6 separate regions of the Homo sapiens genome follow, and regions 1, 2, 3, 5 and 6 are each reported to be linked to region 4. Evidence: microRNA targets listed by miRTarBase, many of them from high-throughput screens and not tested one by one. Region 4 holds a microRNA gene; each other region holds the end of a gene's coding sequence. Distances are from middle to middle.
Evidence for each region. The annotated mature microRNA hsa-miR-6727-3p reads UCCUGCCACCUCCUCCGCAG and lies in region 4 at 1,691-1,710, opposite strand. An mRNA with a match to its seed (bases 2 to 7 or 8) in the 3' UTR can be bound and repressed. Matches are read on the target gene's strand: a 7mer-m8 pairs with bases 2 to 8, a 7mer-A1 pairs with bases 2 to 7 and ends in A, and an 8mer does both.

Region 1 (3,118 bases), not on the chromosome of region 4:
CCAAGGCCCGGCGCCGGAGTCGCCCCCGCTTTTTTGCCCACCCCCCTGTCCCCCGAGCTGACCAGCGTCACGGCTGCTACGTGTGCGGGAAGAGCTTCGCCTGGCGCTCCACACTGGTGGAGCACATTTACAGCCACAGGGGCGAGAAGCCCTTCCACTGCGCAGACTGCGGCAAGGGCTTCGGCCACGCTTCCTCCCTGAGCAAACACCGGGCCATCCATCGTGGGGAGCGGCCCCACCGCTGTCCCGAGTGTGGTCGGGCCTTCATGCGCCGCACGGCGCTGACTTCTCACCTGCGCGTTCACACTGGCGAGAAGCCCTACCGCTGCCCGCAGTGTGGCCGCTGCTTCGGCCTGAAGACCGGCATGGCCAAGCACCAATGGGTCCATCGGCCCGGGGGCGAGGGGCGTAGGGGCCGGCGCCCTGGGGGGCTGTCTGTGACCCTGACTCCTGTCCGCGGGGACCTGGACCCGCCTGTGGGCTTCCAGCTGTATCCAGAGATATTCCAGGAATGTGGGTGACGGCCTAAAAAGTGACCATCTAGACATTGTGGGCGGCCCGAGATGGGCTCAGGGGCCCGAACCTCTGCAGCGGCCTGCAGGGAGGTCCCAGAATCCACCGCAAGAGCTGGCCTGGGGTGCGGACAGTCTGATCTTGGGCTCTCAGCAGCCTCTTCTGCCAGCACCTTGCTCCCCGCTGCCCTGGGCTCTCCAAGGCCCCCTTTGCTGAGGCAGGGCTGAGGTGAGAACCCCCCAGACCTCCATACAGGGAAGCAAAAGCTGTTTCTCCTCCCAGAGATGCTAAGAGGATTGAGGTAGAGAAGAACCTTGTTTTCTCTGTTGTCTTTTTCTTTTTACTTTTTTAATTTTTTGAGACGGAGTTTTGCTCTTGTTGCCCAGGCTGGAGTGCAATGGTGCGATCTCGACTCACTGCAACTTCCACCTCCTGGAGTCAAGCGATTCTCCTGCCTCAGCCACCCAAGTAGCTGGAATTACAGGCACCTGCCACTATGCCCGGCTAACTTTTTGTATTTTTAGTAGAGATGGGGTTTCACCATGTTGGCTAGGCTGGTCTCGAACTCCTGCCCTCAGGTGATCCACCCACCTCTGCCTCCCAAAGTGCTGGGATTACAGGCGTGAGCCACCTCACCTGGCCTTTTCTTTTTTATTCTTTGACCTTCCCACAAGACAATACCCATTGTCTGTTTTTTTTGTTTATTTATTTACTTATTAAGACAGCATCTTGCTCCTCACCCAGGCTGGAATGCAGTGGTGTGAACTGGGCTCACTGCAGCCTAGACCTGCTGGGCTCAAGGAATCCTCCTGCCCCAGCCTCTCAGATGGCTGTGACTACAGGTGGGCAACACTATGCCTGGCTAATTTTTAAATTTTTTTGCAGAGATGGGGTTCCCACTATGTTGATCAGGCTGGTCTCAAACTCCTCGGTTCAAGCAATTCGCCCACCTTGGCCTCCCAAAGTGCTGGGATTACAGGGGAGCCACTGCACTGGCCTTCATTGTCTTTTTGCTGCACAACCTAAAAAACCAGTGACCCTGTATTGGATCTCGCCTGCAGTTGCTGTATTGATTTGGGCCCAGGCAGTGTTTTTAAGTGATAAGAATTAGTGATGAAGATCTAAAGGGATATTTTGCACCAAAATCCAGGTTTCTGGCATCTCTTGAAAAATCCAAAGATTTCGCAAGTTCACCTAGGCTCTCAGAAAGTCGCAGTTGTTGGGAGTTGGGCCGGAGCCAGAACTCCCAACTTACTGTGGTCCGGCCACTCATCCCATCAGCTCCTGACCAAGCATGAGTAGCCATTCATCATGGCTTGCTTTTAGTGTTTTTGGTGTTTATCTTAAAGTACAGCAAAGAAGAAAGGGAAGTATTTCTTGAACCCATGTCTGTGTCAAAACAGTCCTTGCATCTTTCCTGTCTTTAGGTACGCACCATCTTTGCTGTCTTTAAGTATGTGCCATCATGGGCAGAGGGGGCTAGGCCAGGAACACCTGGTGTTAGATTTGTAGCCAGTGGCAACCGTACCCATCTGTATCCCCAAGTTCTACACGGAATCCCTCCAGCACTTCACGACTCCATTATCCAGCTACCACTAATTCCTTTGTGGGCAGAGTCCAGCCACGGGCAGCCCCTGCCCTGCCTCTGGTCAGGACAACACCTGCCCAAGGAGAGCAAGGGCCTGTGACCTCTGCTGGCCTGTGCGCCCTCACCTGTCACCCAGCTCAGCCCTGTGTCTGGCCTACCCAGGGAGGAAGGAACCAGATTTATCAGCCTGAAAGGAGGTAGAAGTTTTGGAGAAAAGACACTGTTCGGGTGTCAAGTAATGAACTGACTTTATTCGAACCTCATCTCCAATCCAATCCCACCGTGGTCTCTCTCTCCCTCAGCTTTTCTGGGGCGGGTTGACTCGTGTGTCACTTTATCACAGGGGCACATGGGGTGAGAAGAGGAACCTTGGCAGTAGGAGATACCTTTGTACCAGGTTTTAATTTCCAGTGTACATCTCAGTCCCCTCCCCTAACCCTCAACACAGCCTGGGGAAAGCCCAGCTTGCAACACCAGTTCTCAGCCCAGACTGACAGCCAGATAGATCTTGGCCCTGAGTTTGCCAATTAAAGATGCCGTGATTATTACCTAGAGGTCTCTGAGAGCTTTGAAGTTTGTAAAGTTTACTTATGGCCCAGAAACCAGGCTCCAACTCCTCTGCTTCCTGCCCTCATGACCCAACCTTCCAGCATTTCGTCAATTTTTTTTAGTGTCGTGAAACCCTTAAGCCTTAGCCCCACCCCATTCTCAGCTCCTCAGTTGGTGGCACAGATATTTCCACCTAGAGGTAGGGCCAGGCTAAGTATCTTTTAAAAATGTAGCTATTCTCGGCCGGGCGTGGTGGCTCACACCTGTAATCCCAGCATTTTGGGAGGCTGAGGCGGGCGGATCGCAAGGTCAGGAGACCGAGACCATCCTGGCTAACATGGTGAAACCCCGTCTCTACTAAGGATACATTTTAAAAAAATTAGCCTGACATGGTGGCACGTGCCTATAGTCCCAGCTACTCAGGAGGGTGAGGCAGGAGAATCGCTTGAACTCAGGAGGCAGAGGTTG
Region 2 (3,118 bases), 150 Mb from region 4:
TCTGAAGAGAGAGGTCCAGCACAGCCTGTGGCCTGGATCTAGCTAAGTGACAGTGACCCCACCCCGGTGGCCTCATTCACACAGTGCTCCTTCCAACTGAGCTAGCGGCTCACTGCCCAGAGTCAAACCAGTAACAGTAGCTGCAGTGGTCACTTTCTGACTGACAGGCATTTTCCATATTGTCCTCACCCATCCAATAGCTCTGCAGCTTGCAGATGAAAAAAACTGATACTCGGAAAGCATGTGCCTTGCCCAGAGCCTCATAATCAAGAAGTAACAGAGTTAGAATTTGAATCCAGATCCATCTGGTTTCAAAGCTGGGCTCATTTCACCACCCTAGGGCCTGGATGTTCCAGTAACTGCTGGAGAACTGGAAGCTGTTGGTTTTAGAGCCTGAAGCCCAGGAGCACAGTGCCCAGCTCCTCTCTTACTGTTGTGAGGTCCCCGATCTTTCTTTTCTGCTTCTTTCACCTGTCATTCTCCTCTCTAGTGTCTCCCTCCATCTTCTGGCTCCCCTGGGAGCCACAGATAATTGACATGTTGGGATACACATGTCATTTGTGCTTTTGTCTTTTTTCATTATGTGGGAGCAACAAGGAAGAAAAAAAGAAAAGGAAAAATGCTGGTAAAATACAAAGATAGAGACTTGTAAAAAGAAAGCATAATTCTACCTTAGACTTCAATACTTGTGACAATGGATGGCTCTGCTGACCATGCTTAGGGCTGTGGAGAGTGCAGCTATTTGAAGGACAGGAAGTCTGGAAGCCTGGGTTCTCACCTCATACCCCAAGAGACCATAGAATGACATGAAGGTGGCACTCTTGCACACTTTCCCTCACTCAACTGGGATACACATTCTTCAAGGAAGAGGCTAGGTAACTACAGTCTAGAGCTGGGGACAATCTCCATGACAGAGTGGCAAGGGACTAGAGAGAGCAAGAATTCCTCTGCCCTAGGGATGGTTTAACAGCAGTGATAAGGTCCAGAGAAGAGCTGTGAAGGAAAGAGATGATTTCTGGAAAGGGGACAGAGGCCCCCATTTTGCTTACATGGGTTGTAGGAGTGACGTTAGAGCAGAAGAATGCGGACTGAAGAATCTGTTTCTCCCACAGGTTTTTCCCCCGCTTCCTCCTATCCCATCTTCCTATAACATCGGGGCAGCGTCATGGCCAGGTCTACATGTAACTTGGCCCCGTTTCCTCCCCCTCCTCCCCTTACCTCTAGTGAAGCCCCGCTGCTCTTGGAGGATCAAGCAGCTAGCAAGGCACACTTCAATGTGGCTTTTAACCCCTCATTTACTTGATTCATGAGACTCTGTCCCCTTCTTTCCCAAAATCAAATTATTCCCTTCATAGCTCTTCTGGGGACCTCACCGTTACTAAACCTCATCTCACACACTTCCAAGGAAAGAGTGAACAGTGAGTTGTGTGGGACCTACCACAGACAAGAATGTTGGGAAGCCTGGCAACTTCAGAGGTGGCTGGGAGGGTGGTGGCGTGGGCATCCAGATGCTTTTCTAAAGTGGGGACTTGCTTAGTGATGGAAGAGGTTTGAGGAAGGAGAGGGGGAGGCTACAGGAAACCTCAGCATGGCTGAAAGAGGAACTTGGACAGATGTTTGGTTTTCCCCTTCATCCTACCCAGCTTGCATCACACACCAGTTTCATTCTTAGTTCAGTTCTTCTGTGGGGTCTGTCTCTAGTTCCCCTGTGCTAGGGCCCTGAATCAAATAATGAAACTAGTCTCATCCACTCAAGGTTGGATTTTTTTTTTTTTTTTGAGACGGAGTTTCGCTCTTGTTGCCCAGGCTGGAGTGCAATGGCACAATCTTGGCTTGCTGCAACCTCTGCCTCCCAGGTTCAAGTGATTCTCCTGCCTCAGCCTCCCGCATAGCTGGGATTACAGGCGCCCACCACCATGCCTGGCTAATTTTTTGTATTTTCGGTAGAGACTGGGTTTCATCATGTCGGTCAGGCTGGTCTCAAACTTCTGACCTCAGGTGATCCACCCGCCTTGGCCTCCCAAAGTGCTGGGATTACAGGCGTGAGCCACTGCGCCCGACAAGGGTGGATCTTTGAGTCAAGGTTGGGAAGGGTGTGGAAGATGAAGGGAAGAAACACCTCATGTAAGAAAATCCAGGCAGCTCGATCTCAATGAGAGACTGCTAGGAATGAGAAGCCAGTGTCTGGCTGGGGAGATTTTAATTCCACAAATCCTCCTCAGGGCTGGGATAAATTTCACTTCCATGTGCACGGACAGGTGACACTGGCCTCCACATCCCTACAACTAGAGTTGGGCAGCTGAAACTTCACCCTCAAACTGAAGGCCTGGGGTGGGACATAACAGAAAACATCCTCATCCCCCTCCCGCTCTAAGCTTAGAAGCCCACTGTATCCTTGGGAGCAGCAGTGGACTCCCTGTGCCGTCTTGGGGGCGGGCGGTGTGTGGAGTGGTCAGACTGTGTCTTTACCGTGCCTTCTCTCTCTCTGGCTGGGTAAAAACTTCCTGCTACTGCTGCGGGGTCACTTCCTCAAACCTGAGGGGCATACGAGGGGCATATGGAAAGTAGGTGGGGCAATAAGGGTTGTAGTGGGGTCAGGCATCAGCAAGAGCAATGAGTTCATTTTTGTTTTCTTTTTTTGATTGAGGTAAATAAAAAAGCTTTATCCAGCAACACGGAGATAAGAGTCTGTCCAACCCGACAAGTTCCAGACCCCACCCTGCCCTCACATCAGGCTCTTCCGGTACTGACTGTGCGGGGTGGTCTGTCTGAGGTGGGAGTCCGGGGTCTGCAGGTCCATCTGTCTGTACAGGTCTCTCAGCTCCCTGACCTCCTGCAGCACCCTCTTTGCCTGGCTCCAATTCGATGATGCCTCTCCCAGCAGCCGTTCCGTCTCCAGCAGCAGCTGCTCTGACTCAGAATCCGGCGGAGACCGAGGGGGGTCCTTGGCCTTTCGCTTCCCATCTCCCAGTCCCTGAACCTCTGCCAGAAGCTCCTGAGTCTCCTCCAGTTTCCTTGCTACCAGGTCCTGGATCCGGGACAGCTGCCCCGGGTTGGGGAGGGCAGGGGTTGGGGGTTCCTCAGCCCGCAGCTGGAGGGTGCGGGCAGAGGCAGCATC
Region 3 (3,000 bases), not on the chromosome of region 4:
CTGCCTCTGCTCCCCGACTCAAATCCCCTTCTCCCACATGTTCCAGGAGAAGAAACAGCGCCGGGCTGAGAACCTGAAACGCCGCCTGGAGAATGAGCGGAAGGCAGAGGTCGTCCAAGTGGTGAGTGTCTCGTTTTCCCCCTCTGCCCTTCTGCCCCACTTGGGGGTGCAAACCAGGGCCTCGACCCCTGCCTCATGTACCCCCACTCTCATGCTACGATCTCAGGCCCCTGTGGGGCGGCCTTCCTCTCCCCTGGGAATTTGGACCGAGGCTGCAGCTGCACTAATGTCCTCCCCTCATACCACCCCCAGATCCGAAACCCCGCCAAGCTCAAGCGGGCAAAGAAGAAGCAGCTGCGCTCCATTGAGAAGCGGGACACCCTGGCCCTGCTGCAGAAGCAGCCGCCCCAGCAGCCGGCAGCCAAGATCTGAGCTCAGGACGGCCCGAGGCCTTCCATGGCCAACAACCATGTCAGACACAGCACCTCAGGCCGCTGCTCAGATGCCTCTGCTGGAGCTGGCACTCCAAACCCATGGCTCCAGAACAGGGACCCCCACCCCGACCGGGGCTCCTCGGCCTTTGAAGGCTTCCAGGCAGGTCTGTGTGGGACAGAAGCCCAGAGGGGGCCTGGGACCTGGCAGAGATGGGGGCGGGAAGAGATTCAGCTCCCATCCCTCCTTCCTCTCCTTCTCCAAGTGCCTTCAAACCAAGAACTGTACATTCTTCTGGTTCCTCAGTGAGCTGGTGACTGGCAGGTGACTCCCTCAGCAGTGTATGCCCTTTCTCAGCATCCTAGGTCCATCCCAGGCCTGGAGGCTGACAGTTGGGAATCCAGCTTCCCCCACACCTTCCCAAAGGCTGCTCTGAGCACCTCCACACCCCACTGCCTCTGTCCCCAGCAGACTGAATCCGGTTCCTCTCCACTTTTCAATACTGAAAGATTAAAATGGGGAGGTTGCAGGGAGCAGAGCTTTTCCCTAGCACCCACTTTCCCAAACCAGTCTCTGCAGAAGCCCCAGAGAATCTAACTCATGCCTGTCCAGTCTACAGCAAAAATATTTATTGAGTGCCTGTTGCATACAGGCACAATCCTAGGCACCGGCAAATACAGACAATAGACCAAAGTCCCTGCCCTCGAGGAGCTTTCATTCTGATGGAGAGAAAACATAATAAACAAGCAAAATGCACCACGTGTCCAATGGGGGAAGTGCTATGAGTAAAGGGGGAAGGGATGGGAGGGAGCAGGGGCGAGGTGTCAACACAGGGTGGCTCTGCAGCTAGCTGGGCACCTCACTGTTCCCTTTGCTCAGCACCTGCTGTGGGCCAGGCCTTCAGTGACCCTGGCCTTTGGTGGCAGAAAAAACACAGGACCAAGATCTCAAGAGTTTCTCATCTGCTTCTTCCACTGACATTTCATCCACCAAGCAAAATTCATTGACACCAACTTTTCGGTCCCTGGGCTGCAGAGCTCAAACACAGCAGTCTCTGACCCCAAGTCCACGGCAGGTGGAGGAATGAGACGGGGTGCAGTGGAAGTGATAGGTCAGAGGTGCAAGTTACCCCTCCCATCCGCAAAAGGGAAATGGTAGCTGCCCAGCCCCATGTGGCCTGGAGGCGGGGCTGCACAGATCTTGGGATTACCAGTGCCCAGAGGGATCCCACAGAACACCAGGCCGACAGGGAGGCTGGTCCGCTTAGCTAAGAAATGACGTGTGCTGTAGTCTTAGAGTTGCTGTGCCCATTCAACTTCTAACGACCGAAGACTTTTAGTCATTTCCCCCATTGGATTTGATTAGCCCCAGGTTTCCCGAGTGCTTGACCACGCCATCCCCTGCTGCTTCTGCCTTGGAAGCACTTTGGGCAGTGCTGGGTCACAAGGTAGCATCTTAAGTCCCTCGAGTAGGTCAGAGAATGTCCTCGCTCACCAGAGAGTCATTGAGCATGTGATGCCTAGGGTTAGAGTGCAGACCCTGTGGTCGTTAGCCCTGAAACTGGGCAAGTCACTTAACCTCCCTGAGCCAGAATGTGCTCAGCTGTAAAGACTGGCTAATAGAAGCTGCCCCTTAAGATTGTGGGATGAAGCGTCTAGCGCAGTAAGCATTGGCTAAATGAAGAGGGCAGGCTGGAACAGTGCTTCTCAAACCTTTCCTCTCTCTTCTCCAAAAATACATGGATGGTTTAACATAAAACTCCTTCCCCCCTCCCCCATCATCTGGTAAAACTGAACTCCGGGGAGACGCACCCCGTGTGCCCTTCCGACTCCACTGCCCTAGAGTGGGAAGTCTATTATGAGTTTCACTTTGTGTTACTCCAGGCCTCGCCTGTGAACCTGCCGCACTGGCTTCTCGGCCTGGGAGCTTGTTAAGTGCAGACTCTCAGTACCCGGCCCCGGCCTCCTGGATCAGACTGCACTTAACAAGACCCCTAGGTGATTCACAGGCACATCAAGGTTTGAGAAGCACTGCTTTAACTCACTGTTTCTGAAAAAGATTCAGAGTCTCCCGGGGCGCTTTAAAATGCAGGTGCCTGGGTCCCGCCCCTCGGACTTTGATCACTGCGGCAGGAGTCCGGATATCGAATTGAACCGCGGCACCCTGGTGATACTTTCGCGTGTGAGTGCCGCCCTACGTGGGCCGGGTTCTAACTCGAGGTGCTGCTCAGCGCCCGGTTCAGGGGGCCCGTCTGCGGGGACGCTGCGCAGCTGCCCAGCAGCCAGCCGAGGAGACGCGCGGGGCCCCGCGGTTCCTCCGGGCGGCTGCAGAGAGCTAAAGGGGAGGCCGAGCGGGCGGTGGAGGAGGTGCGGCGGCGGCGGCTGCTTCCCGCGCCACCCAGCTCGCTGTCGTCCACCAGCACGCTCTCCAGCACCGTGCGCAGCGAGCGCCGCAGCTTGCGCAGCATGTCGGGGCAGGTGAGCACGTAGAGCACCGGGTTGGCCACGCTGTTGAAGAAGGCCAGGCTGGTGACGAAGGGCAGCCCGCGCCACACGAGCGGCCGCAGCC
Region 4 (3,118 bases):
GTGGGTCACGGGCGGCTCTGGGTCACAGGTACGGAGGATGACGGCTGTGCTGGTGGGTCACGGGCGGCTCTGGGTCACAGGTGGCTCTGGGTCACAGGTACGGAGGATGACGGCTGTGCTGGTGGCCGTGGGGCTGGGGGCTTTGGCACCTGCCCAGGTGAAGACGATTCTGGAGAGCCAAGATCCCCTGGGCAAGCACCAGACACGTGTAGCCCCAGCCCACGGCTTATTCCTCAAGTCAGTGCTGTACGGGAACCTCGGTAAGAAAAACAGGCACGAGAAGCTCCTGTCATGTGCCCAGTGACTACTGTGGCCGAGGCATGGGGTGGGGGGCCAGGGGCCACTGACGGCAGCAACTGGGGGTGAAGCAGCCCCCCGCCCAGGGCTGCAGTCCCTCAGGCCAGCCCGTAGCCCGTCCTGGGCTGGCCCACTCCCTGGTCATGGGAGTGGTCTCAGCGGTGGGGAGGGTGCTGGGCCGGTCTTGCCCCAGGCTGACGCAGGGTCTGGTCCGTCCACAGGTGCTGCCTCCTGCACCCTGCAGGGGCCACAGTTCGGGAGCCACGGATGACCCTGGACACTCAAGCCAAAGTTAGGCCACACCAGGCCCAACCCTGTGCTGGTCAAGCCAGGGCAGTCACAGCTGCTTGGGGCCCACAGCACTGCTGCCTGGTCTCCACAGTAGCCTCCCTGCCCGGGTCCCAGCACCCTGGATGCCCGTCTCTGTCCCAGGCGGGATGGGGCACAGTGCAGGACACAGCCATGTACACCAAGAAGAGAGTACCAAGTAGTCTTTTGTTCAGCTTTTACTGGAAACTGCTGTCTAGGACCACCTGCCCTAACCAGGAATAAAGGCAAGACAGCCTGGAGACCAGTTTGTTTCTTCAGCTGCAAACAGCTGCCTGGGCAGGCAGGTGACACAAGGCCTCTGTCCCCAGGGATGGGACCTGCAGGGTCTGTTCACCCAGGGCACCCACAGTCCTGAAGTGCAGGCCCAGGGTCTGTCCAGCTGGGAGAGGGCAGAGGTGGCGGCTGGGTGAGTTGCCGGCCTCAGCTGGGGGCCTGGGGGAGGCCCTTCTTCAGCAGAGATGTGAGGAAGCTCCCCAGCTCCTCGTCCTAGGGCAGAGGCAAAAGCATTGTGGGTGGTGCAGGACAGGGAGGAATGTTGATACCTGTGTTGACCGCGGTGGGGTGGGGGTCACCCCTTACCTGGTAGGTCCAGGAGACCAGCAGCACCTTGGTGCCTGGGTCCTCAGAAGGGGCGGCGGCCTGGAGGAGGACGGACTCCACAGTCACAGAGCCGTCTGGGAGGTGCTGCACACAGTGGTCCTTCAGGACGCTGTGGGGAGGCTCGGTGAGACCCTGCCTGGCCTCCAGGGCCCAAGGGAGTGGGGGGGGGGCGGGGCCGGGCGCCCACCTCTTGAGGTGGCTGTAGACGCGCAATGCCGTCTCCTGCTCCTTGCGTGTGTCATGCAGGTGCACGCGGCAGGTGAAGCGCAGCTGGTGCTCAGCCAGACCCAGCTCTTTGAGGGCTTGCTCTGAGGACACCAGCCGGAAGTTCTGTGGGGCAGGGACAGGTCAGTGAGCGCAGCAGCGGCCCTCCCCCCTCCAGAGACCGTCCTGGCACTCACGCTGTCCTTCATGATCAGGGTGCCGTGCAGGAGCCGAGGCTTCTTGGCCTCAGGGAGCAGCCCTGCGGAGGAGGTGGCAGGAGCCATCAATGTGAGGGCCGCTCCCAGCCGCCTGCCCCGAGCACCCTGCCCTGCCCTGCCCAGCCCGCATACCCTGCGCCATCTCCCGCTTCAGCAGCCCCAGCGAGATGCCTACGGGGATGCTGGGGCTTGTGGGCAGCGTCACCGTCTCGCCATTGGCCGGCATGTAGCAGTTGACCCCTGGACCCCGGGGGAAGAGAGAGCCTCAGCCCAGGCTGCCCGTGCTGACCCGAGGTGGGCCCCACGCCGCCCGCCCGGCTGCCTACGGAGCTCCTGCTCGATCTTCTGCTTCAGGAACTCCATCTTCTTGGCCTCGCCATGCACCAGCAGCACGCTCTCCGGCTCTGCCTGGCCCACCAGCTGCATGATGCCCTTGGCGTCCGCGTGTGCGCTGAATGACATGTACTCCACCTGCATCTTGACCTCCAGCTACAGAGGCCACGGGGCGTGGACAGTGGTTACCACCAGGAGGTGCCCCTCGGCCCTGCCAGCCCAGTGCGGGGTCGAGACTCACCACCTGCCGCCCCTCCATCTCGAGCTTCCGCTGCCCGCTGAGGATCTTGTGGCCGACGGTGCCCTGCACGCAGTAGCCGGGCATGATGACCTGGGGGCAGGCACAGAGCTCACAGCCAGGGAACTCCAGCCTTGGCACCTCAAGGCCTTGCCCGGGATGCCCCCGCCTGAACCCCTGGAAGCTGTTTCCACCTGCCAGCGGCGCCCGACCAAGCCTAGCTGCAGACTCCAAAGGGCTCAGGTTTTGGCACAAGACTGTCCAGGGCTGGGCTGGGGCTGTTCTGCCCGAGGTGGACAAGCTGTGTCACAGAGACTGAGCAGCTCCAGGCGGACATCGCCCCCGTTCCCCAGCAGCAGCAGCCACGTCCCTTGGCCAGCACGAGGCCAAGCCAGTGAGAGCTCAGAGACAGCATGGGTGGAAGGACAACCCGTCGGCCTCCAGCTTCCAGATTCCCACACCTCACCATGCCCTCACCATGTTCTTTTCGTTTCCGGCCCATTTCCGGAAGATCTGCAGGGACTGCCCAGCGTGCAGCATTCCTGGCGTGGCAAACACAACCTACAGGACACACAGGGCCAGGTGGGGGGTCAGGGCAGCAGATGCCCCCACCCCCACTGCAGGCCCAAGCCCAGACACCTGCGGAAGACAGGAGACCGACGGGTGTGGATGTGCTGGCCGGCCCTGCCGCGGGCCTCACCATCGGTCCTGGGTTGTCAGCAAAAGCCCGGTCGAAGGCCTTGATGTGCTTGAACTCAAACATGTTCCTCTGCACGAAAGTCTTGCGGATCTTCTGGTTGGTCCAGGGGATGAACAGCTTGTAGTAGTGGTTGGCCTTCTCGGTCAGCCCCGTGGAGAAGTAGATGGGCACCTTCAGGTTCATGCGCTCCCTGGGGAC
Region 5 (3,118 bases), 7.0 Mb from region 4:
ACCAGCTGCAGGCCATGCATGCCCAGTCGGCCGAGCTGCAGAGACTGGCCATGGAGCAGCAGTGGCTGCATGGACACCCCCACATGCATGGTGGCCACCTACCAAGTCAGGAAGATTATTACAGGTGAGGTGGGGTGCTGGGAGGGAGTGGAGGGGTTATCTGAGCCCAGGCTCCCAACCTCCCCGTGTGCCCAGGGCCAGGCTCCTCCCCCTCTGCCTGCTGGGCCCTGGAGGGGACATTGTGGAACCATGGTGATGGGAGAAACAGAGGAAGGGAGGTGTTGGGAGGGTAGGTCAGCTACACAGGAGGCTGCGGGCTTGGGGTTGGATTGCCTGGCTGTTGTCTTTGGGGTTGCCTCCAGCCTGCGTGACTGCCTGCCTAGGCCTGAGACTAAATACGCTTTCCTGTTTTGTCTTTCCAGTCGACTGAAGAAAGAAGGTGACAAGCAGTTATAAGTTATTTATTTGTTAACGCTGGCTGTGGAAACCCCAGTTCTTGGGGGGAGAAACAGGACTTTTTACATAAAATAGGAGCTGCAAAAGCAAAAAGAATATCTTCTAAAGATTTCTTTATATATTTAAAAACCCACAACTAAAAATGTATCCACATAGTAGTGTTCGTTTGTCGAGAGGATTTCCTGAGACTGGTTTGGATCTCCCTGCATGACAGTCCCCCAGAAACTTAGTGAGTCCTGGACTGGACTGAACATCCAGAAAGCTTCCCTGCAATCTTGGGGTTTGGCTTTAGTTTTCTTTTCCTTGATTTCTCAGTAGGTGCTAGAATCCAGTTCACACCCTTCACTGTGCGTGCAGACACACTGACACACTCCGCCACGAGTGCTCCAGAGCCCACGAGGCTTGCAGATCGGGGGCATAGGAATTTGGAATCCAAGAGCTATAATTTTTAAAAAAAAAAATCTTTTATTTTAATACATTGTAGGAAATCTTCATAATTGGAGAAAGTTCTGCAGCATGGCTTTTTACGTCTGTAAATAAATAATTTTAGAACAGCCTTTTTTTCTTCCATAAACTACTATTGTGATCTATTTTTTCCAGCCATGTCACTAATTGTGAATTCCTACCAACTATTGACAGAATACAGAGTTGATTTTTTAATAAAAAGTTATATATAATTATCCCTTTAATTAAAGGGAGCAAAGGGGCGTTCCACATGGACAGAGGCTTGGACCGAGGCCTGGTCACAGCAGCGAGCATCCAGGGTTTGCAGGGACGATGTTACAGACTCTGTTTTCTGCCTGGCGTTTCACTTGTGTCTGCTCCTAGCCTGTGCTCTGCCAGCAGCACAGACATCTGCTCCATCAGACCTCTTCCATTTTGCACAGGGAGTGCAGGAGGTGAATGTTCACTTTCTGTTCTCCAGTGTCACTGTTCTGTTTCCACGGGATGGAAAGCGCATGGGCCTGTGTCCATTGTAGATTTCCTTCTAGATTTCTGTGTACACACACTTGATTGTTCTGGATGAATGTCTTTTTTAATACTCCGAAAATTTCATCATCTAAGAAAATGATTCCATACAAATAACTCAGCACACAAGTGACCCAGGACATATGCCTGCCAAAGGGATGTGTTAGAAGGCTGCCTTCTCATGCGCATTGTCACTTGGATCTTGTGGTGAGGACGGCCCCATCTTTCTTGCCACAGATTGAGGCCACTTTTGAGCAAGGGAGATCCTGGAGTTAAGACAGGTGTTGGGGGCAGCCTGTATTTTACCCTAGGGGCAGGTCTGCATGGTGACCCCACATTGCACTGGTAAACCATTTGAGTCCCACTCTTCATCCTGGAAGTGGGAACTGGAGTCCCACCCACAGTGCATTCAGAAAGCATGCTGTGTGGGGGCTGCTTCTCAGGAGGCCAGGCCCTTCTGAGCGGAACCGTCCTGGAGAGAGCCTGCCCTCGTTTCCAGGCTGCAGCCGTAACGCACTTTCTCCCAGGCTGAGGGCGGGTGTTCTGGGGTGTCTGCCCTCTGTCGGCCCTGCTTCCTGCCAGGACGTGGCCTCTTCCGATCCTTTTCTCTCAGACACTGGAGGTCTCTTCTGCCATTGTGCTGGTCCCATCCCAAGAATTGTAGGACAGAGACCACACTGGGTCGGCGGACACAAAGTCCATCCAGGACCCAGGCCGCAGAGGGAGCAGGAAGAGATGCTGATAGTTTGATCTAGAAACCAGCAGCTACTGGCTCAAATTCAGGTTCTGGCGTCAAATAGCGACATTTCCAGTTTCTCTTAAAAACCGTGTTTGGTTTCAGTTGGGATAGGCTTGTTTTGTCTGTTGAAAATGTTTCTAGTTTTTTTTCTTTCATTTTTCTCTCATTCCATTTCTGCCTTAACTTTAGTTTGTTCACAGGGAGGCAAAGCTGACATGAACCTTTTGTCGTGGGACTTCAGGCCACATTGGCTTGAAGGCATTCGTTTCCTTCTGGGGTGGGGACAGGCCCTCATGGCAGGCTTGTTCCCGTGGCTCTGAGCGAGGCCTCTTCCTGCTGGGCTCCCAGACTCCTGCATCCAGGCCCCCACCTTCTCGGCTTCTGGTTTTTCTTTCTTTTTGGTAGAACACAACATCTACCATTCAGTTAAACCTTCTTTATCTCCTCCTTTGGCATCCATTTTTCCAAAGAAGAGTCGAGTCCTCTGAGGTCTGTGCTTGAAAGCCGTCCGAAGGCATTCTTGTTAGCTTTGCTTTTCTCCCCATATCCCAAGGCGAAGCGCTGAGATTCTTCCATCTAAAAAACCCTCGACCCGAAACCCTCACCAGATAAACTACAGTTTGTTTAGGAGGCCCTGACCTTCATGGTGTCTTTGAAGCCCAACCACTCGGTTTCCTTCGGATTTTCCTCCCTTTGTTCGGGGTTTGGTTTGGCTCCTCTGTGTGTGTCCGTATCTTGTTCGGTGTCCTCGAGGTTGAGCTTCACTCCACTGCGGCAGAGGCAGCGTGCACACTCGGATTTGCTACGTTTCTATATATCTTGAAGCTAAATGTATATATGAGTAGTTTGCCATGAGATAACACAGTGTAAACAGTAGACACCCAGAAATCGTGACTTCTGTGTTCTCTCCATTTGAGTATTTTGTAATTTTTTTGAAATATTTGTGGACATAAA
Region 6 (3,118 bases), not on the chromosome of region 4:
GCTGCCACCTTTAAGCCAACTCTCCCCGATCTGTCCCCTGATGAACCTTCAGAAGCACTCGGCTTCCCAATGTTAGAGAAGGAGGAGGAAGCCCATAGACCCCCAAGCCCCACTGAGGCCCCTACTGAGGCCAGCCCCGAGCCAGCCCCAGACCCAGCCCCGGTGGCTGAAGAGGCTGCCCCCTCAGCTGTCGAGGAGGGGGCCGCCGCGGACCCTGGCAGCGATGGGTCTCCAGGCAAGTCCCCGTCCAAAAAGAAGAAGAAGTTCCGTACCCCGTCCTTTCTGAAGAAGAGCAAGAAGAAGAGTGACTCCTGAAAGCCCTGCGCTAACACTGTCCTGTCCGGAGCGACCCTGGCTCTGCCAGCGTCCCCGGCCACGTCTGTGCTCTGTCCTTGTGTAATGGAATGCAAAAAAGCCAAGCCCTCCGCCTAGAGGTCCCCTCACGTGACCAGCCCCGTGTAGCCCCGGGCTGACCCAGTGTGTGCTCAGCAGCCCCACCCCACCCTGCCCCTTGTCCTCTCAGAGCCTCAGCTTCTGGGGGAGACATGCTCTCCCCACAGGGGGGAGGCACTAAGTCATGGTCCTGGCTGGAAGGTACTGAAGGCTTCTGCAGCTTTGGCTGCACGTCACCCTCCTGAGCCTCACCTTTCCTGCCGTCCCTCCTGTTGTGAAATCACCACATTCTGTCTCTGCTTGGCTTCCCCTCCACCCTAAAGTCTCAGGTGACGGACTCAGACTCCTGGCTTCATGTGGCATTCTCTCTGCTCAGTGATCTCACTTAAATCTATATACAAAGCCTTGGTCCCGTGAAAACACTCGTGTGCCCACCAGCGGCCTTGAAGAGGCAGGTCTGGGCCAGATGCTGGGCAGGAAACCCCAGCGGCAGATGGGCCTGTGTGCACCCAACGTGATGCTATGCATGTCTGACCGACGATCCCTCGACCAGAATCAGATTCAGGAGCTCAGTTTCTTTTTCACTTGGGTCTCTGGATTCCTGTCATAGGGAAGGTATATCAGGAGGGGAAGAGGCCTTTCTAGAATTTTCTTTGAGCAGGTTTACAATTTAGCTTACATTTTTCGACTGTGAACGTGAATAGGCTGCTTTTTGCTTTCTTCTTTCCAGACCCCACAGTAGAGCACTTTTCACTTATTTGGGGGAGGCTTCAGGGGACTGTTCTCACCTTAACTCAGCCAGAAAGATGCCCTAGTTGTGATCAAAGGTAACTCGAGGTGGAGGGTAGCCCTGGGGCCCCTCGACATCACCGTCATTGATGGAGCCTGAACCGTGTGCTCCTCGGCAGATGCTGTTGTTGTTACTTCCCTCCAAGAGGCTGGAAAAGGGCTCAGAGCTGCTGAGCAGGAACCGGAGGGTGACCCATTTCAGGAGGTGCCGGTACCAGCCTGACTAGGTACAGGCAAGCTTGTGTGGGCCCAACAGGCCCTTGGTAGAGCTGGTGCCAGATGTGGGCTCAGATCCTGGGCATGATGGGCCGAGCCACCTCGGATCCCACTGATTGGCCAGCCGAGCGAGAACCAGGCTGCTGCATGGCACTGACCGCCGCTTCCAGCTTCCTCTGAGCCGCAGGGCCTGCTACGCGGGCAAGCGTGCTGCCTCTCTTCTGTGTCGTTTTGTTGCCAAGGCAGAATGAAAAGTCCTTAACCGTGGACTCTTCCTTTATCCCCTCCTTTACCCCACATATGCAATGACTTTTAATTTTCACTTTTGTAGTTTAATCCTTTGTATTACAACATGAAATATAGTTGCATATATGGACACCGACTTGGGAGGACAGGTCCTGAATGTCCTTTCTCCAGTGTAACATGTTTTACTCACAAATAAAATTCTTTCAGCAAGTTCCTTGTCTAAATCTGGGAAGCAGTTTTATATTTTAATTTCTTTGTTCCCATGTTTGTCTCGTGCTGAAAAGAGACCTCCTAATGTTCATGTCTTGATAAAATGTCACCTGCAGCCACGCGTGCGGCAGGACGTGCCACCCAGCACTCCTGGTGTCCCTCTCCACGGGAACTCAGGGTGTCCAGGGAACTGCTGGCCTGTCCTTGTCCCCATGGTCCCAGTCTCACTGTCACTGTGTGCTCATGTTTGATGGGGAGGGCTCTGTGCTGGGGACATCCTGCCAGGGTGCGGGGCACACTGCCAGATACCACCTGGCCAGGGCTGACCCCAGCCTTGGAGGAGCCTGCCTGAGTGAGTCCCCAGGCTGCCACTGTGCAGAGGGGGAAACTGAGGGTCTCAAAGAGCCTTGGACCCTTCCGGTCAGTGGAGCCATTCATTCAGCTCCAGCTGCCTTTCCTGGTGTGGGTAGAAGCACGGCTATATATGGCGAAAGGCACTTGGTATAAAACAAACAGGTGCTTTATTTCATCATCAGAAACCTGGTGCATAGTTTAAAAAACAAACAGAAGCCCTGACAGCCTTGGAGTGCTGCAGCTCGGAGTCACTGAAGGAGTAAGTAAGTCTGGAGGAGCTGCCTGAGCTTCCTGCTTAGGGGCCGGCCCCCACCCACAGGGTCTCCCTGGACTGGCGGGGGGTGGGGGTCAGGCAGTGGGCAGGGGCCTGACCTAGGCTCCCACTCTGCCTGGTGCCCACAGCCTGGGCACAGTGGCTCAGCTACTCAGCCTTGAGCGTCTGTGCCGGGTAACTCAGCTTCTGCAGGAGGAAGAAGGGGAGCAAAAAGAGCCCGGACCACGTGGTGAAGCAGGCCTGGGCCCCGGCCAGCCAGTACACTGCGGAGAGACGGTGGCGTCACCCAGTCCCCGAGGGGGCTGGCACTTGGGAGGCGAGGGCAGGTGCTTGGCCCCCAGCCTGCCCCAGCACCATCCCGCGCCCTCACCTGAAGCGGCCACCAGGGGCCCCGCGGCCCTGGCCAGAGCACCTAGGCTGCGCAGTGTACCCATGACCGTGCCCTTCTGCCCTGGTGAGCCTGTGGGAAGAGGCACAGTCAGGCACCACTGCCCTTCTCCCGCTCAGGTGGCTTCGGCCGAGGGAAGGGGGCTCACCATAGCCAGCGACCACGGAGGACAGGCAGGGCACCACAACGGCGGCGGCTGGTGGGAGACATCGAGGAGGTGCCCGTCAGCCCAGGGGAGGGTGCATCAC

Region 1: miRTarBase lists ZNF747 as a target of hsa-miR-6727-3p. The part of its 3' UTR that is shown has no 7-base or 8-base seed match.
Region 2: the mRNA of PLEKHO1 is a reported target of hsa-miR-6727-3p. The part of its 3' UTR that is shown has no 7-base or 8-base seed match.
Region 3: the mRNA of CCDC86 is a reported target of hsa-miR-6727-3p. Seed matches in the 3' UTR shown: 7mer-m8 at 751-757.
Region 5: the mRNA of RERE is a reported target of hsa-miR-6727-3p. Seed matches in the 3' UTR shown: 7mer-m8 at 2,459-2,465.
Region 6: the mRNA of ADD1 is a reported target of hsa-miR-6727-3p. Seed matches in the 3' UTR shown: 7mer-A1 at 866-872.

Annotation. Positions count from the first base shown.
Region 1 is chr16:30,529,902-30,533,019 of GRCh38, reverse strand. It overlaps ZNF747 (zinc finger protein 747), which reads left to right. Exons shown (of 3, transcript NM_001305018.2): 3 at 1-2,653. The coding sequence ends at 521. It also overlaps a transcript of ZNF768 not described here. Among named protein-coding and RNA genes, the nearest start is that of ZNF747, 3.4 kb to the left of the region's middle.
Region 2 is chr1:150,159,131-150,162,248 of GRCh38, reverse strand. It overlaps PLEKHO1 (pleckstrin homology domain containing O1), which reads right to left. Exons shown (of 6, transcript NM_016274.6): 6 at 2,184-3,118. The coding sequence ends at 2,726. It overlaps LINC02988 (long intergenic non-protein coding RNA 2988), which reads right to left and starts at 1,521. Exons shown (of 4, transcript NR_135098.1): 1 at 1,439-1,521. RefSeq lists silencers at 114-183, 772-841, 2,542-2,591 and enhancers at 1,452-1,761, 2,892-3,118.
Region 3 is chr11:60,849,894-60,852,893 of GRCh38, forward strand. CCDC86 (coiled-coil domain containing 86) reads left to right here. Exons shown (of 4, transcript NM_024098.4): 3 at 47-121; 4 at 313-1,188. The coding sequence ends at 432. PTGDR2 (prostaglandin D2 receptor 2) reads right to left here. Exons shown (of 2, transcript NM_004778.3): 2 at 1,040-3,000. The coding sequence ends at 2,642. It overlaps CCDC86-AS1 (CCDC86 antisense RNA 1), which reads right to left and starts at 1,188. Exons shown (of 2, transcript NR_182293.1): 1 at 873-1,188.
Region 4 is chr1:1,310,812-1,313,929 of GRCh38, forward strand. MIR6727 (microRNA 6727) reads right to left here and starts at 1,755; the gene lies at 1,691-1,755. It overlaps PUSL1 (pseudouridine synthase like 1), which reads left to right. Exons shown (of 8, transcript NM_153339.3): 7 at 98-260; 8 at 519-866. The coding sequence ends at 568. It overlaps INTS11 (integrator complex subunit 11), which reads right to left. Exons shown (of 17, transcript NM_017871.6): 9 at 2,921-3,110; 10 at 2,698-2,781; 11 at 2,224-2,313; 12 at 1,976-2,138; 13 at 1,782-1,889; 14 at 1,629-1,690; 15 at 1,415-1,557; 16 at 1,207-1,336; 17 at 789-1,113. The coding sequence ends at 1,048.
Region 5 is chr1:8,352,425-8,355,542 of GRCh38, reverse strand. RERE (arginine-glutamic acid dipeptide repeats) reads left to right here. Exons shown (of 23, transcript NM_001042681.2): 22 at 1-124; 23 at 423-3,118. The coding sequence ends at 456. Among named protein-coding and RNA genes, the nearest start is that of SLC45A1, 36 kb to the right of the region's middle.
Region 6 is chr4:2,928,209-2,931,326 of GRCh38, forward strand. It overlaps ADD1 (adducin 1), which reads left to right. Exons shown (of 16, transcript NM_001354761.2): 16 at 1-1,854. The coding sequence ends at 315. SLC75A1 (solute carrier family 75 member 1) reads right to left here. Exons shown (of 13, transcript NM_001146069.2): 11 at 3,019-3,066; 12 at 2,853-2,942; 13 at 2,359-2,745. The coding sequence ends at 2,630. Among named protein-coding and RNA genes, the nearest start is that of SLC75A1, 5.1 kb to the right of the region's middle.